Regions from separate parts of the Homo sapiens genome. Here region 1 is linked to region 2. A link means that fine-mapping ties the variant in region 2 to the expression of a gene that starts in the linked region. Tissue or cell type: tibial nerve. Region 2 holds a variant in brackets; the other region holds the start of a gene. All regions are shown on one strand. Distances are between the middles of the regions.

Region 1 (8,169 bases), 23 kb before region 2:
CGGATTACCCTGGGCACCGCGCAGCCAACAGCGGAGACCAACACTGGCCCCTTCCTCCACCATGGAGGATGCTTGTCCCAGCAGGATGGGCTCCCACCCCAGCTGTGGATGGTCAGTGCCCTCAATGCCTCTGCCCAAACCACCACCCCACACATTCAGAGCTCCTCGTCCACCCACGGGGTGCTCCTCATGGCGGCATCGCCATTGTCCTGGGGACAGCAACCGGCCGGTGCTCCTGGAACCCACAGATCTCGCCGTGTTCCTGATGGAATGGCCTTTGGGAGGCTCAGTTTTGGCACCAGCTGAGTGACAATGCTGTGGATCTGGGGTCCTCTGGATGCAGCGGATCCACTGAATCAGCACTTAATCTCTGGCTTTTCCCAAAGCCGGGGCTCACTGGTCCAGGCGTGGAGGAGTGGAAACCCCAACTTCTTCCCATTGTCGTTAATCCCCAGTGAGCCACAAGTGAAAGTTTTGCCCCCTGCAGTGTTGCACGCTGTTGGTCTAGAGGCCTCAGATTCCCAGGGACCAACTCATCCCAGTTTGCTTAAGACTTTGCCGGTCTTATTTTCATTTTTTTATTTTTTATTTTTTTGAGGCTCAGTTTTGCTCTTGTTGCCCAGGCTGGAGTGCAATGGCACGATCTCGGCTCACCACAACCTCCGCCTCCTGGGTTCAAGCAATTCTCCTGCCTCAGCCTTCCTAGTAGCTGGGATTGCAGGCATGCACCACCATGCCCAGCTAATTTTTTATTTTTAGTAGAGACGGGGTTTCTCCATGTTGGTTAGGCTGGTCTCGAACTTCCAACCTCAGGTAATCCACCTGCCTCAGCGTCCCAAAGTGCTGAGATTACAGGCGTGAGCCACCGCGCCCAGCCGACTTTCCCAGGTTTAAAACGGAAAGTTCCATGTCCTAGGAATCCCCTCGGTCCTGGGAAAGCCCTGGAGTGTTTCCACCAGGGGACACGTTACGCAGGAAGCTGAGACTGCCCACCTGGACGCCGGTTCCTCACACCAGGGGGTCGACAAAGAAGAGGGTCCCTGTGCTGGTCCGGCTGACTGAGCCCAACAAGGGGAACTTGGAACCTGATCACAGAATGGGGCTAAGGGGGAGAAATTTGGGAGGCAGGAGATCGTCTGTAATATCACGTAGCTCCTCTAAGCCTTGCAGAAAACACCACTGGAAAACCAGAACCACCCCATAAGGCAAAACTGCTAACAGCATAGGCCTTTTGGGAAGGAACGTTTGGGTCACCCCACCAGACAGTGAACCACGACCAGCAGAGGTGCTTGCAGAGGGCAAAGGGACCACGCAGGAGTGACGGAAGAGCGTGGCCATAAAGACTGTACCAGCCACGACCTGGTGACCGTAGAAGTGAGTACTTCTTATCCTCACACAAGTCACACTTGTACTGACATTATCCGTTCTTCCTGCTTTTTTCCTCTTCCATTGCCCTCCTAGCTGCATAAAATGCGTTAACAACAGTTAACTTTACATTTCATCTCAGTATTTGTGTCATCCAACCCCCAACATGCACTTTGCAGTGTCAAGTGTTAAACGCTCTTAGAGAAACTAGAAGAACGAGGATCGTCTTCTCAAATGTGGATAACATGACACGAACCTTTTGTTCAGTCCCTTCTGGTTGGAATATTTGCATCATGTTACGTAGAAGCATGACTTTGTTTTTTGCTTTATTTGGAAGTTAAATGTGTTTTTTAAAAGAAGTGTGCGTCTGTGCTGAGTTGTCAAGAGGAGGAACCTGCCAGGTTGTTCTCTCTTTTTTTTTTTTGAGACCGAGTCTCGCTCTGTCACCCAGGCTGGAGTGCAGTGGCGCGATCTCGGCTCACTGCAAGCTCCGCCTCCCGGGTTCACGCCATTCTCCTGCCTCAGCCTCCGAGTAGCTGGGACTACAGGCGCCCGCCGCCACGCCCGGCTAATTTTTTGTATTTTCAGTACAGACAGGGTTTCACCGTGTTAGCCAGGATGGTCTCGATCTCCTGACCTCGTGATCCGCCCGCCTCGGCCTCCCAAAGTGCTGGGATTACAGGCGTGAGCCACCGCGCCCGGCCAGGTTGTTCTCTTATTCTAAGCTGGAGACCCATTTCCCAGAACCTTCTCCTCTGTGGCTGGGTCACACCGAAGTGAGGCGGTGGCCGTTCTTCTCCAGAAGGGGCCGAGACGGATGTGGTAGCATATGGAGCATCTGCGTCCGGCAGATCCCAGCTCGCCCCTCAATTGTACCTACTATGCTTTGGATCCACAGGGGACACCCTCTGACTGTGGACCCATGAAGTGTCCCAAACACGTCTCTCCCGACATTGCCAACACTTGCCTTCTAAGAACCTGTTTACGGGTCAGGCCAGCCGTTGCCTCCCCAGAGAGCGACCCTGGAGCGGGAGCCGGCCTCCCTCCATCACCCAGCTCATCTCCTTCACGTCACTCACCACCAGCAAAGCGACTATGCGTTCACTGGTCTGTCCCTGCCTAGTAACATGTAAACTCCATGAAAGGAGGGCCCTTTTCTGTCTTGCTCACTGCTGTGTCCCCTAAGTCCCTGGCTCGTCAGGACACTAGAATACTAGGTAGCGTCCACTGGCTGGATGAATGTGCCTAGGATGGGGTGCCATGCAGTGGAAAGAGGGAAAGCATTAGACGCACAGCCAGACAGATGCACATAGAAAATATGGGACTTGGAGAAACAGAATGAGACACATAAAAGAGCACCACTGGCCGGGCACAGTGGCTCACGCCTGGAATCCCAGCACTTTGGGAGGCCAAGGCGGGAGGATCACTTGAGCCCAGGAGTTCAACGCCAGCCCGGGACACATGGTGAGACCCTGAATCTGTTAAAAAAAAAAATACAAAAAATTAGTCCGGCATGGTGATGCATGCCTGTAGTCCCAGCTCCTCAAGAACCTGAAGTGGGAGGATCGCTTGAGCCCAGGAGGTCAAGGCTGCTGTGAGCTGAGATTGCACCACTGCACTCTAGCCTCAGAGACACAGTGAGACCCTGTCTCAAAAAGGGGTGGGGCACTATATTTTAATGAATATGCAGATAACAGAAATATGAAAAGTGGACTGCAGGAGGCAGGAGATGAGGAGCTGATGGGGTGGGGGAAGGTTTGAGAGACCGGGTGTTGTTTAAGGGCCGGTATGAACAGCAGGATGTAACCAGCTTGCTTCTGTGCTCAGAAGTTAGGGGAGGAGGATGGAGGGGAAGGAGGGAAGGAGTTGAGGTCTTAAGAAGGCAACTTCTGGGCAATCTTCCATTGTGAGGTGGGGTCCACGTCCCCACAACCCACGAACTTGGGTGGCCGTGCGGCATGTGGCAAACCTGAGGGGTGACTCCAAGATGCTTCACTCTGTGTGCTGGACCGGGAGGCTGCCCCTGGCAGCTGAGCCTGCAGGCGCTCTGGCCAACCACCCGGGGTGAGCCCAGCCATTCCTGCCGAGGGTGCACTGGCTTGGGGCAGAAGTCTCTGGATGGCTCCAGCCTGTCCCGCGGAGCCGGCCCCACCACTCACGTCTTCCCACCGGAGGCCAGCACCTCGAGGAGCAGAGAGGAGCTGTCCCCGAGTGCCCTGAGTTCCTGACCCACAGGACACAGGAACACAGGAACGCTGCTGTTGGACAGCACTGAAGCTGGGCGGTTTGCTACACACCCAGAGACAGCTGAGCAGACAGAGGGAGAAGAGTAGGGTCACGCTGGCAGCTGGACAAGGGAAGTACTGGGGGGACAGAGGGACTGGCAGGGGTTGGTGCAGACCAGGTGAGAAAGGGCACGAAGTGGGACAAGGTCCCGGTGAGAGGCACGACACTGTCACCTGCCTCAGGCCGCGCTCGGTGGGGCGGGGGCCACCAGCTGAGGCCCCTCCTGCCGCCCAGACAGCTCGGCCCCCTGCGGCCCCAGCCCTGCAGGCTGAGATCCCGCAACGACTCCCACCCCTGGGCTGAAGCCGGTGCTTGGGCCCCCCCGCCCCCCGGCCTCTCTCGCCCGCCCCCATTCCCCGCCCCCCAGGACCCCGGGTCCCTCCCCTCCCTCCTCCGTGTTGTCCGCCTGCAGTCCTTCGGGTCACTGTTCTCGGGAGGCCGCCCCGCCCCACAGTCAGGCTGTGCCCATCCCCCGCCGCCCCCCACGGTCCCCGAGCCCCAGCGCTTCCCAGCCCCGCGTCTGTGTGCCGCGCCCCCGCGCTCCGTGGCCCAGGTGGACGCGCGCCCCGCGCCCCGCATCCCTGTCCGTCCCGCACCCCTCACCCCCCGCCCCGCACCCTCCGCACCCCCCGCCCCGCCCCGCCTCCCCTCGCCCCGCCTCCTCCGCCCCGCACCCCGCGCCCCGCCCCGCCTTCCCGCGCCCCGCACCCCTCCCCGCGCGCCGCCATTGGCTCCCCGCGGCCTGGCTCGGTCCGATTGGTTCCGCGCGCGCGGCCGGGGCCCGATCCGCGGTGGCAGCCGTGGATGCTGTTCGGTCCCGCCGCCGCCCCAGGAGCGCGGAGCCGGGAGCGGCCGGGCGGGGGGCACCGCGAGGAGCCGCCCCCGCCGCCCACCCCGGGCCCGCGGCCGAGGGCGGCCTGGGGGGGTCGCGGCCGCACCCGGTGGCCGCGCACGGCGGACAAAGGACCATGCGGGGCCGCGGGCGCTGAGCGCGGCGGGGCGGGCCGGGGATGCGGCGCGGGGCGGGCGGGGGCCGGGGGCTGCAGCGGCGCCGCTGAGCGCGGCCTGGGGCGGGCGCGGCGGCCGCGATGCCGCGGCTCCCGGTGAAGAAGATCCGTAAGCAGATGAAGCTGCTGCTGCTGCTGCTGCTGCTGAGCTGCGCCGCGTGGCTCACCTACGTGCACCTGGGCCTGGTGCGCCAGGGACGCGCGCTGCGCCAGCGCCTGGGCTACGGGCGAGGTACGGCGCGGGGGGCGCGGGGGGCGCGGGGGGCGGGGGCGGCGCGGGGGGCGCGGGGGGCGCGGGCGGCGCGGGGGGCGCGGGCGGCGCGGGCGGCGGGGGCCCCGGGGCGCGGGCCGGGCCTCCCACCGCACAGAGGTCTCGGCTGGGCCCGACCCTCCCGGAGACCCCGCCCGCTGTTCTCCGCTCTGCGATTTGGGGGGAGGGGGCGCGGTTCGGCTCGGCCCGGACGCTCGATGACGTCGGCAGTGACGCGCGCGACCCTCCCAGAGAGGGTCCCTGACTCTGGGATCTGGCTTGGATCCGGTAGTGAGGGGCTGACGGTGGGCTCCTGGGGAAGTCTCTGCCCCTAGACCCTGCTGAGGCTTCCAAGAGGCCTTCTCAGGCCTCGCCTCCACCCCCTGCCCGCTTAGCAGGGCCTCAGTTTCCCTGTGTGCTGGGGACCCGGGCCGGGGCTTGCTGAAGTGGCCGGTGCAGCTGGGACGCTTCCCGGCGGGGGCGCCTTCGGTGAACTGTGCCAGTGTTGTGGGGGTCCATGCGTAGGGATGGGGCCCAGCTTGGGGAGCCTGGCGTAAACTCTCCCAACCCCAACCCACAAACAAAGCAGATGGGGTCACGGTGAGCCAGCCGGGGTAGGGCCTCCTGGAGATGGTGATCTTTGACATACACCTTTGGGGGAAAGAGCATTCCAGACAGGAAGGCGCAGATGAAAGCCTGGCGGTGGGGTTGGGGGAGAAGGTGGGGCAGAATGCCCCCTCTGGAGGAGGGAGGTTAGTGCCATGCCCAGACCAGGAGAGACCCCAGCTGGCTGCCTCTGAGCCTTTTCCAGGGAGCCAGGTGTCCTGAGGGGGCAGAACAATGATACTGGCTGGGGACTCCTGGGCCACTCCACCTGCCAAAGCCCCTGTGTTCTCTTCCTGTACCGGGACGCCTGGACCCACACAGGCCAAGGGTCTGGGGCTTGTCCCAACCCACATACCTCACAGCTTCCACACCCTCAAGAGACCCCCGATACTGCTGAATCCCTAAAAAGCCCCACCCCAGCTATCAGCAGACAGGGCAGGATCCACAGCTGGCCCAGTGACACAGAACAAAACCAGCCCCCTCTGCAGGCTCCTCTGTGGTTTTCTGAGCAGCGCAGGGGTCTAAGCCCAACCAGGAGGGGGCGGAGGCATAGGGACCCCTCTTCCAAGGACCCCTTGAGGCTAAGCCAGCTCCGCCCCAGGGCACCTGTACACTTGCTACCTCTGAGGCTAGGGCCAGGACCAGAGGAGCCCAACAGCTGCCCAGGGAGAGGGCGAGTGAGCAGACTGTTCTGTCGGGGGACCTGGGGCCCAAGTCAGGGGAGCCCTGGGGGACCCTTCCCAGATCTGCCTGTGGACATCTCTACTGCCTCCCCACAAGCCTGGGCAGGCCAGCTCTGCACCCCAGCCCTCTCCACTTCCTGGACCTCCCTAAGCTGAGGACCTAGACATCCCCACTGCAGCCCCAGGGGGTTCCACGCCCTGGGATCTGAGCATCTGTAGGGATGCTTCTCTTCACCCCAATTCTGCCCCTCCTGGTCCTCCTACCCAAGGACACTCAATCCAGGGCCACCCTCTGCTCCAGGGCCATGCCTGGGCGTCAGCATCCATGCCTGTTCCTCAGTCCAGACTTTGAGAGCTCAAATCCTTCAGGAGAGACTACAGTCCCTGGCACTAACCCTGAGTTCTCAGTTCTGGTAAGGGAGGCAGACGTGGAACACTCCAGCACACAGAGAAAGTGCTGAGGGCACAGGGCAGTCCTGGGGTCTTCCTGGAGGCAGAGCCACTCAACAAGAATGGCCAGATGGAGGTGCATGTGGGTGCCTACACACGCCAGCTGGCCCACCCGGCTTTCCTCCCTCACACCTGCTGGAGGTTGGGAAGAGCCTGCTGGAAGGCTCAGCCTGGGCTGCCCCACCAGAGGTGGGGTGTAGAAGAAGTTGCCTTGCTGGGGGGAGGGGCATCTGGTGGCAGAGGAAGCAGATGAGAAGGAGAGGCTTTAGTGAGAGACACCACAGCCTGCCTGCCCTGCTCTGGCCATGTGGGTCCCTGGCCCAGCTGAACCCAGCAGCAGGCAGAATGGCCTTGGAGAGAGCCTGGGCCCGAGACAGGCCTCATGTGCCACCTGCAGATGGTGAGAAGCTGACCAGTGAGACCGACGGCCGGGGGGTCCACGCTGCGCCATCCACACAGAGGGCTGAGGACTCCAGTGAGAGCCGTGAAGAGGAGCAAGCGGTGAGCAGAGCCCTGGGGAGAACACGTGTGCACGGAGACGAGACCCCGAAGCCACTTGTGTGTTGGTGTCTTGAGAACCTGTCCATTCTGGAGGACGCAGCAGGGGGCATGAGACACAGGACATGTGGGGCACGGCACAGCTTGTCTGTGTGAGCTCCAGCACCAGCCATCCTGTCTGGAGCTCTGTGTCTGGGGGCTGCAGCAGGTGCATGAATGTGCCGGCCGGTCAGTGTGTGGGGTGGCCAAGCATCTGCTTGGGCTAGAGTGACCAGGGTGTCTGAGTGTATGTGCCAGGTGCCACAGGTCAGGGTTTGCATGGCTGGGGCTCACGGGCATTTAGGGCTGTGTGGATACATGTTGGAAGGGGTCTTTGTGAAGGTTTGTCTTGGTGTGTGTGACCTCCTCCCTGCCCTTCCAACCCTGACCCTGTTGCCTTTTCTCTCCTGCAGCCCGAAGGTCGGGACCTAGACATGCTGTTTCCTGGGGGGGCTGGGAGGCTGCCACTGAACTTCACCCATCAGACACCCCCATGGCGGGAGGAGGTGAGCTGGCTCGGCCTGTAATGGGCTGGGAGGCAGGGCGGGGGCTGGGGCGGGGGGGCGGCGGGCCGTGCAGAAGGTAAGGCCCCCCCATCCCCAGTACAAGGGGCAGGTGAACCTGCACGTGTTTGAGGACTGGTGTGGGGGCGCCGTGGGCCACCTGAGGAGGAACCTGCACTTCCCGCTGTTCCCTCATGTGAGTGCCGGGGTTGGGGGGTGCCGGGTGGGCAGGGCACGCAGGGGGCTTCGACAGCAACAGTCACTGCCCCCCCAGACGCGCACCACCGTGAAGAAGTTGGCCGTGTCCCCCAAGTGGAAGAACTATGGACTCCGTATTTTTGGTTTCATCCACCCGGCGAGGGACGGTACGGGGGTGAGGGTGCCCCGGGGGAGGGGTGCCGTGAGGCTCCACCCCCCTGAGCCTAGTCTTGTGGACTAGGAGACGTCCAGTTTTCTGTGGCCTCAGACGACAACTCGGAGTT
Region 2 (8,169 bases):
CTGAAAAGCAGGCCACCCCGCAAGCGGCAGAGAATTTGGGGGATGAGCTGTATATCTTATATAGGGCCAGGGAAGAAGAGAAGCTTTATCCAATTGGATGAATAGCAGTACCATTGGAGGACCCTAAATGGGACCCCAGTGATAAAATGGGAGAATGGAGGATGAAACACTTTCAGATGTGATACTGGAGGGCTTGTGAGGGAATGGGACTGGGCTTCTCATTGCACTTGGCTGGAGGGCTTATGAGAGAAAGGGGCTGGGCCTCTTGATTGCACCAGGCTGTCCATGGTAGAGCAGGGATTGGCCCCACTGCCTTCCTGGGGGATGGCAGGGGCCTTGGTGAAGTGTGCCTCTCTGTCTCCTGACTCAGTCAATGAACGGCTGGTCCTAGGGGATGAGGAGATGAGTTCATTGCACAGGCGGCCCCTGATGTCAGAAGGAGGATGCGGGAATGGGCTGTGGGACCAGATGGTACTTTGGGGGCATCCTGGGAGGGGCCACCTCAGTTTTTTCCAGTGGGAACCGGGAGGAAGTCCAGAAAAGAGAGAGGAGATATAGGAAGAAGGCAAAGGCTCTTAACAGCTGCCCTGTGGGCTCATGGACCCCAGGATCCCTAGATACACCTGTGACTGCTGCAAATGTGTTGGGCTAGGGCCCCACAGGAGGGTTTCCAGACAGTGCAGGGAGGAGGGTCCTTCATGAGGGTTTCCACACAGTGCAGGGAGGAGGGTCCTTCAGGAGGGTTTCCACACAGTGCAGGGAGGAGGGTCCTTCAGGAGGGTTTCCACACAGTGCAGGGAGGAGGGTCCTTCAGGAGGCTTTCCAGACAGTCCTGGGAGGAGGGTCCTTCAGGAGGGGCTTTCCAGACAGTGCAGGGAGGAGGGTCCTTCAGGAGGGGCTTTCCAGACAGTGCAGGGAGGCCACCTTGACCCTGTCCAGTTTGCCTTGGGGACTGTAGGGTCCAGCCCTACGGGGCTTAGTGGGTGTTCTCCCCATGTGCGGAGACCAGAGATTGTAATAAATAAAGGCACAAGACAAAGAGATAAAGAGAAAGCAGCTGGGCCTGGGGGACCACTACCATCAAGACGCGGAGACCAGTAGTGCCCTGAACGGCTGGGCGCGCTGATATTTATTGCATACAAGACAAGGGGGCAGGATAAGGAGGGTGAATCTTCTAAGTGATAAGGTGAAGCAAGTCACCTTACGGTGACCCTTCCCTCTTAGGTAGCCGAAGTAGAGAGGAAAGGCAGCATACATCAGTGTTGTCTTCTATGCAGTTATAAGAACGATCAAAGACTTTAAGACTTTCACTATTTCTTCTACCGCTATCTACTACGAACTTCAAAGAGGAACCAGGAGTACGGGAGGAGCATGAAAGTGGACAAGGAGTGTGATCATTCAAGCACCACAGGGAGGGGGTTAGGCCTCCGGATGACTGCGGGCCAGGCCTGGAGAATATCCAGCCTCCCACAAGAAGCTGGTGGAGCAGAGTGTTCCCCGACCTCTCCAAGGAAAGGAGACTCCCTTTCGCGGTCGGCTAAGGAACGGGTGCCTTCCCAGGCACTCGCGTTACCGCTTGACCAAGGAGCCCTCAAGCGGCCCTTATGTTGGCGTGACAGAGGGCTCACCTCTTGCCTTCTAGGTCACTTCTCACAACGTCCCTTCAGCACCTGACCCTATACCCACCGCTTATTCCTAGGTTATATAGTAATGGAACAAAGAGTAATATTAAAAGCTAATGACTAATAATGTTTATAATAATGATTGATAATTGTCCATGAGCATCTCTATATCTAATTTGTATTATGACTATTCTTATTCTATTTTCTTTATTATACTGAAACAGTTTGTGCCTTCAGTCTCTTGCCTGGGCACCTGGGTCATCCTCCGCCCACAGGGGACCGCTGGAGGACAGACCATCCCTGGAGACGTGGGTTGCCGGACCTCGGGCCAGTCTCCCAAATGGTACAGCAGGACTGATGGGTCCCCAGCCTCCTCTCCCCAGCTACAGTCGTCCAGACCACCATTGCCATCCAGGAACCCCAGGGATTGTAGGGGTCAAGGGAAGGAGGATGGACCTCGTCCTGGACTCCAGAGTTCTCCTCTCCAATCTGGGCCCCCCTCCCCATCTCTTGGCACAACTGTGAGTGGCATCTCAGGCCTCCTTCCTCCACCATGTCAGGAATCAACACAGTCTTGTGAATACAGGGACCTCTCCATGGAGGGGTTAGCTTTTTTCCTTTCAGAAGGCACCTTCTTAGGCCAGGCCCCCGATTCCCAGGACTTCCCTCCTCCGCCTTGTTTGAGGAGGACCTGGCCCCACAGCGCCACCTGTTTATAACAGGAAAGCAACAGGAGCGGCCGCCACCTGTTAGCAGCTGCAATTTGGTGAGGAACACTTGGGGCTAACTGAATGGGTCCACACACCGTCCTGAGGCCAGACCCCAGGAGAACCCCCGGGAGATGCCCCGCCTGCCTCAGACAGACGCCCCCTTCCCCAGAGGAGCGCCGGGGTCCTGAGGCCAGACCCCAGGAGAACCCCCGGGAGATGCCCCGCCTGCCTCAGACAGACGCCCCCTTCCCCAGAGGAGCGCCGGGGTCCTGAGGCCAGACCCCAGGAGAACCCCCGGGAGATGCCCCGCCTGCCTCAGACAGACGCCCCCTTCCCCAGAGGAGCGCCGGGGTCCTGAGGCCAGACCCCAGGAGAACCCCCGGGAGATGCCCCGCCTGCCTCAGACAGACGCCCCCTTCCCCAGAGGAGCGCCGGGGTCCTGAGGCCAGACCCCAGGAGAACCCCCGGGAGATGCCCCGCCTGCCTCAGACAGACGCCCCCTTCCCCAGAGGAGCGCCGGGGTCCTGAGGCCAGACCCCAGGAGAACCCCCGGGAGATGCCCCGCCTGCCTCAGACAGACGCCCCCTTCCCCAGAGGAGCGCCGGGGGCATAGCAAGAGCCCGGGACTCGTCTGATGAACGAACAAGTAGTGGACGGACAGATGGACAGACTGACCAACAGGCCGGCAGTGGACGGGGTGTGTGCAGATGAAAGGTGTCCCCCCCAAGAGCCTACAGGGGCCATACCCCTCAGCTACTTTCCATGCCAAGGACCAAGGCCAGAGACCTCAGAGCTGCCCCAGCCACAGGCGCGGGGCAGGGGCCACACTCCACAAGGTGAGGGGTGGTGCCCATGGGCAGCCGGGCAGGCTCCGTGGAGGGGCTGGACTTGGCTGGAGCCCAAGTCAGAAGGTTTGCAAGCGTGGGCGCCAACAGGAAGCGCCAGGACGCTTGCCTCTGGGTGAGCTGTGCCCCCACGCCGGGTCCATCAACCACCAAGGGGCTCCCCTAATGCACTCCGAACCCCGCCCCTGCAGGCGGTGGGACCTGAGGCAGCCTCCCAAGCCT[C/G]TCTGTGCACCGGCTCACTCCTGAATTCGGCTTTGACTATATTTTGCTTCCAACGTCCTCACACCTTTCTCCCCAGATCCTCCCCCTTCTGCTCCTTAAGACGACCACCCCAACCCCCTCCACCCACGCAGGCTCTGCCCTGGAGGTTTGTCTTCTGTGCCCTCCCACAACTCCGGGCACGCACCTGGCAGCTCTGCCCACGACCTGGGCCCAGCCGACCTTCTCTGTGAGCGCCTCCCGTGCCCCCCACGCTGAGCCCACCATGCCCCGAAGCCCTCCTGCGCCCTCTCCCACCGCCTCTTGGGAGGTGACTGACAGGCCACACCCCACCCAGGACCCATCTAAGAGCAGCGCTCACTCACCCTTCGAGGCCCTCAGGTTCCAGGCTCTCAACCTGATTGTGCACCCAAGCGGCCCGAGGCTCCGTGCAGATTCCGGGCCCCACAGACAACCGCTTCCTCCAGGAAGCCTACCGTCAAGCCCCCCTCCAGGGCTCCTGTGTCAGGAGCTGGCTCCAGGGAGAGTGCGACCCTCAGGGCTGGTCACAGGGATCAGATGAGACTCCGCCGAGCCTGGAGCTGGAAGCTGCAGCGGTGGCCTAGCAGGCATCGCCATCCGTCTGGCCCGGCCGCAGTGAGGGAAGGTGCACCCCAGATTCCTGGCTTTGCCAAAACTGTGCCTGGCGGGCACCACGCATCCTCAGGGAGGCGCCGCAGCTCTGGGGGGGGGCACCCACAGCCCTCTCTGCCAAGGGGAGGAGGGAAGGTGGGCAGAGTCGGCCCTGGGGGCCCTGCAGGCCGCGGGGTACCGGCGTTCCCATCATAGCTCCAGCCGCACGGAAGCCCCTTCACTGAGTCCTCTTGTGAGCCCTTCGGCCTGACTGGGCTGCAGAGGCCCTCCAGGCTGGCTTCCCCCTCATGCCGCCCAGCCTGGCCCCTGCAGGGCCCCAGGTGGGCCTGGGGTGGACCTGGGTGCAGGGCGGGACCCAGCCCATGCCAGGCACATACCTCCAGGCCCGCTCTGCGCCGCACAAACTTGTCTCCCAGGATTTTTCCACACGAAACCTGTCTCCCAGGGAATCAGCCAGTCCGATGAGCTGGGCGTTCCCACCCCGCCCTCCGAGGCCCCCACAGTCCTGTCCCCGCCGCAGAGGCTGCCCCGCACGCGCCGGGCCAGGGATGGAGTCCTGGACACCTCGGCCGTCAGCAGTGGCCTCTGGGATGAGCTGGGAGGCTGGCGGGATCCGGACCACGAGCCGGGTAGGTCTCCCACCCCTTCCCCACCACCCCGACCCCACCTGGTGGCCCCAGCCCGGGCCTCACCCATCCTTTCAGTGGACCTTCCCCTCCCCCTTTAACCCCCCACGCTGACCTCCGACTCCTACTCTCCAGCTTCCTCCCCTCAGAACTGACCTCACCCTTAATGCTGCCTCCTAACCCTGACCCGGCCCTCACGCCAGACCCCTGCCCCAGCCCCATTAAGGCAAAAATCTTCCAGGGACGGAGCTAGGGGGCAAGGGTCTGCCCTGGAGGAGAGCCCAGAGCCAGGGTCCAGGGTCCAGGGAGAAGCAGAGGCTGTCCGATGAGCTCGTGAGAGAAGCCCAGAGGTTGTCATAGATGTTCAGCTCCCACCCCCAGCCCTCCTAGGCTTATCCCCACCCCCATCTACCAGGGGCTTGTCCCAGAGGCTAGAGGGCCTCAGAGCCCATTTGCTGGCTGTGGTGCTAGAAGGAGACCTTCTGGGCACAAGCCCTGCTTGGTCCAGGGCCCCCCCACCAGGGGCCCCCCACTACCCCACCCCCACCAGGGGCCCCCCACCCTCGCTCCCTCTCCATCCAGGCCTCTGCTCTTCCAGACCCCTGGTTCTTCCCTGCACACCCGCTCCTGCCCCAGCCTGACATGCGCTGACAGGAGTGCAGGCCCTCTGAGTCAACCCCCTGGGGCGGCCCCGCCCCCCTGCACCCTGACTCATGTGCTGGGAACGGCCTCCCACCCCAGGGCCTGGGGTGCAGGAGCAGTGGTGCCAGGGTCCCAGAAGCCAGAGAGGGTTTTGGAGGCCTCTGTAGGGGGTGAGGGGGTCCTGGGGGTGAGTTCCAGGGTCTGCAGGCTTCGGGGGAGGGCCGGTCCATCCACATGCTTCCTGGTGCGGAGGGGGCTCGCTGGATTCCAAGGACCAGGGCCAGGGCCTCCATGGAGTCCCGTTGGACCCTAAAGCTCTGTCCCTCCAGCCTTTGTCCTGATCCCTGGCACTGACCCCTGACTCCCGACAGTGTCTCCTGCCAACCCTTCCTAGGCCTCATCCCCACCTCACCAGGAAGGCTGGGCTACCATGGAGGCTGGCTGATTCTTGGAGCTACCTAGGGCCCTAGACCCCCAGGGACTGGGGCACCCTCCCCTTCATGCTGGGGGTGGCAGGACATAGGCCCCCCGCAGGCCCCCTGCCCTTCCCTGACACTCAGGACACAGAGGGCCCCTCTGTCCCAGCCCCACGACAAAGGGCCCGGTCTGGCCTTTACAGGCTGAGAACAAGAAGGACCCAGGTCCCCGTGGCCCTGTTGTGGGATGGGAGAAAAGGAGGCGGGAGGCCAGGCTGGGACCTGGGGCCATGCAGGGCCTGTTCTTCCGCCCAAATTCCACCTTAAGCAGGCGGCGGCCCCTCCCTCCCACCTGGCCAGGTGTCCCCGCCCCCAGCTGCGCTCAGGGCTGGGCAGGCGTCTGTCTTCAGGCGGCTCTGGGTGAGGCTGGCTGGGCGGGGACTTCAGGGAGAGGGCCTCGAGGGACAGGACGTGAAGATAGTTGGGTTTGGAGGCGGCCGCCAGGCCCAGGCCCGGTGGACCTGCCGCCATGCAGGACGGTAACTTCCTGCTGTCGGCCCTGCAGCCTGAGGCCGGCGTGTGCTCCCTGGCGCTGCCCTCTGACCTGCAGCTGGACCGCCGGGGCGCCGAGGGGCCGGAGGCCGAGCGGCTGCGGGCAGCCCGCGTCCAGGAGCAGGTCCGCGCCCGCCTCTTGCAGCTGGGACAGCAGCCGCGGCACAACGGGGCCGCTGAGCCCGAGCCTGAGGCCGAGACTGCCAGAGGTAGGCGGTGGGGACAGCGGCGGGGATGGCGGTGGCGGGGAGAGGTGGCTGCGGGCGGACGTGATAGTGTGAGGGCAGAGGCCGCAGTGAGGCCGGCTCCTGACTCACCAGGCCTCACACTGAGTCACACACCCCGCCCCAGGGGCGTGGGGAGAAGCCATGGGTGGGGCTGCCCTGTCCAAGCAGGGACCCCGGGGTCCTCCAAAGACTGAGCCTGGCCAGGCCCCACCTGTGCCTGGAGTCCTGGAGCCATCCCTGTGGGGGATGACAGGGAAGGTTGGCACATGGCAGGCGGGCCAGGCCACTCGGTCGGCAAACCCGGAACACGCACGCGCCTGGCCCCGGTAGCACAGACTCACATAGGGTCTCAGGGACACCCAGACACCCACGCTCCTCCCATACCTCACGGGAATGAGCAGAACGGGAAAGCGGGGAGAGGTGTGGGGGTGCTGGAAGTCCTGGAGGAAAGCCAGGCCTGTCTGGACCAGGGGCTCCCTGAGGAATTAGAGGGGAGGGCCCGGCTGGAGTGACCTAGATTTCTCTGTGGGAACAGCAGGTGGAGGAGCACCCCTCGGTGCCAGCCAGACCCACCTGTGGCGGAATCCTGGCCCCACTCACGCGAGTGTGTGTGCATGCGTGTGAGTGTGAGTGACAGGAGCACAGACGCTGTGAGTTGAAGGCAGTGGTTCTAGGAACGCCATTTCCTCCTTCCCAGGCTACAGCAACAGGGATTAAGGTTAGACAGTAAGATGGACCTCCCAGAATGCCAGGGACCCAGATGCCAGTTCATCATGGTCCACTTGGTGTTTAGAGGGGCCTTCCCCAGGACTGGCCTCCAGCCACTGGCCAGGGGGAAGTGAAGGTCGCCCAGCGGAGGGGCCGGCCCGGCGGCCTGGACTGTGGGGTCCTCCCTCCAGGGGCCTCAGCCTTGCTGGTGACCAAGTCGGGTGCCCAGGGGTCATGGGGTGGAGGACGGTGAGGGAAGGGTTAATTACCACCCTGGCTGCCCTGCCAATTAGAGGGAGGTGGATTATAATTGGGGGGTGGGGGTGAGGTCCCCAGGCTGGGGCGTGCCCCCACTCCGGGCTGGGCCTCACGAGCGTCAGAGGGTTAATAGCCCCGGCCCAGAAGCCCCATTAACCAGGGTGAACCTGGGGCCTCTGCCATGGGGGTGTCCCCCACAGAGCATCCAGCTCTGGGCAGAGTTGTGGGAGGGCCACGGCCCCTTTCCCTGCACCCCACCCTGAGCCCCTCAGCCAGGTCGCTCTGGTGGGCCTTCTCATGCCCCCACCATCAGCCCATCCTCTCTGCACCCATCCACGAGTCCATCCCTCTGCCCACTCACCATCCAACCATGGGACCCTGTCGTCGACGGCTGTCCCACCCCTCCATCCACCACTCTGTCCATCCTTCCAGCAGTCACAGCAGCCCTCCCATCCTCCTCCTGCCTGTCCCTCCATCCACCCTCCGCCCTCCACCCTCTGCCCACCCACCTGTCTGTCCACTCACTGTGGAGTCGGGCTGACGCAGCTGCCCTTGGCGTGTGTGTGGCTGGACGGGGTGGGTGTGGCCCCTGCCTCAGGCTCTGCCGGGTGGGACAGGGCACTGCAACAGGGCATACTGGTCCAGGGAGACAGTGTCACTCTCCTGTGACCGGGCACAGATGAGGTTTGGGCACAGGAGGGGCTCAAAAGG

What was found. PIP is the estimated chance that this variant, and not a neighbour inherited with it, causes the effect.
Region 1: B4GALNT4 starts here. The variant in region 2 is fine-mapped to the expression of B4GALNT4 in tibial nerve (GTEx, PIP above 0.99). The same link has a PIP of 0.9 or more in atrial appendage.

The regions. Positions count from the first base shown.
Region 1 is chr11:365,065-373,233 of GRCh38, forward strand. It overlaps B4GALNT4 (beta-1,4-N-acetyl-galactosaminyltransferase 4), which reads left to right and starts at 4,435. Exons shown (of 20, transcript NM_178537.5): 1 at 4,435-4,890; 2 at 7,045-7,148; 3 at 7,598-7,690; 4 at 7,788-7,883; 5 at 7,962-8,052; 6 at 8,127-8,169. The coding sequence starts at 4,740. RefSeq lists an enhancer at 2,968-3,506.
Region 2 is chr11:388,051-396,219 of GRCh38, forward strand. PKP3 (plakophilin 3) reads left to right here and starts at 6,159. Exons shown (of 13, transcript NM_007183.4): 1 at 6,159-6,474. The coding sequence starts at 6,243. RefSeq lists an enhancer at 5,612-6,374. The variant C/G (reference allele first, on the strand shown) is at 3,400.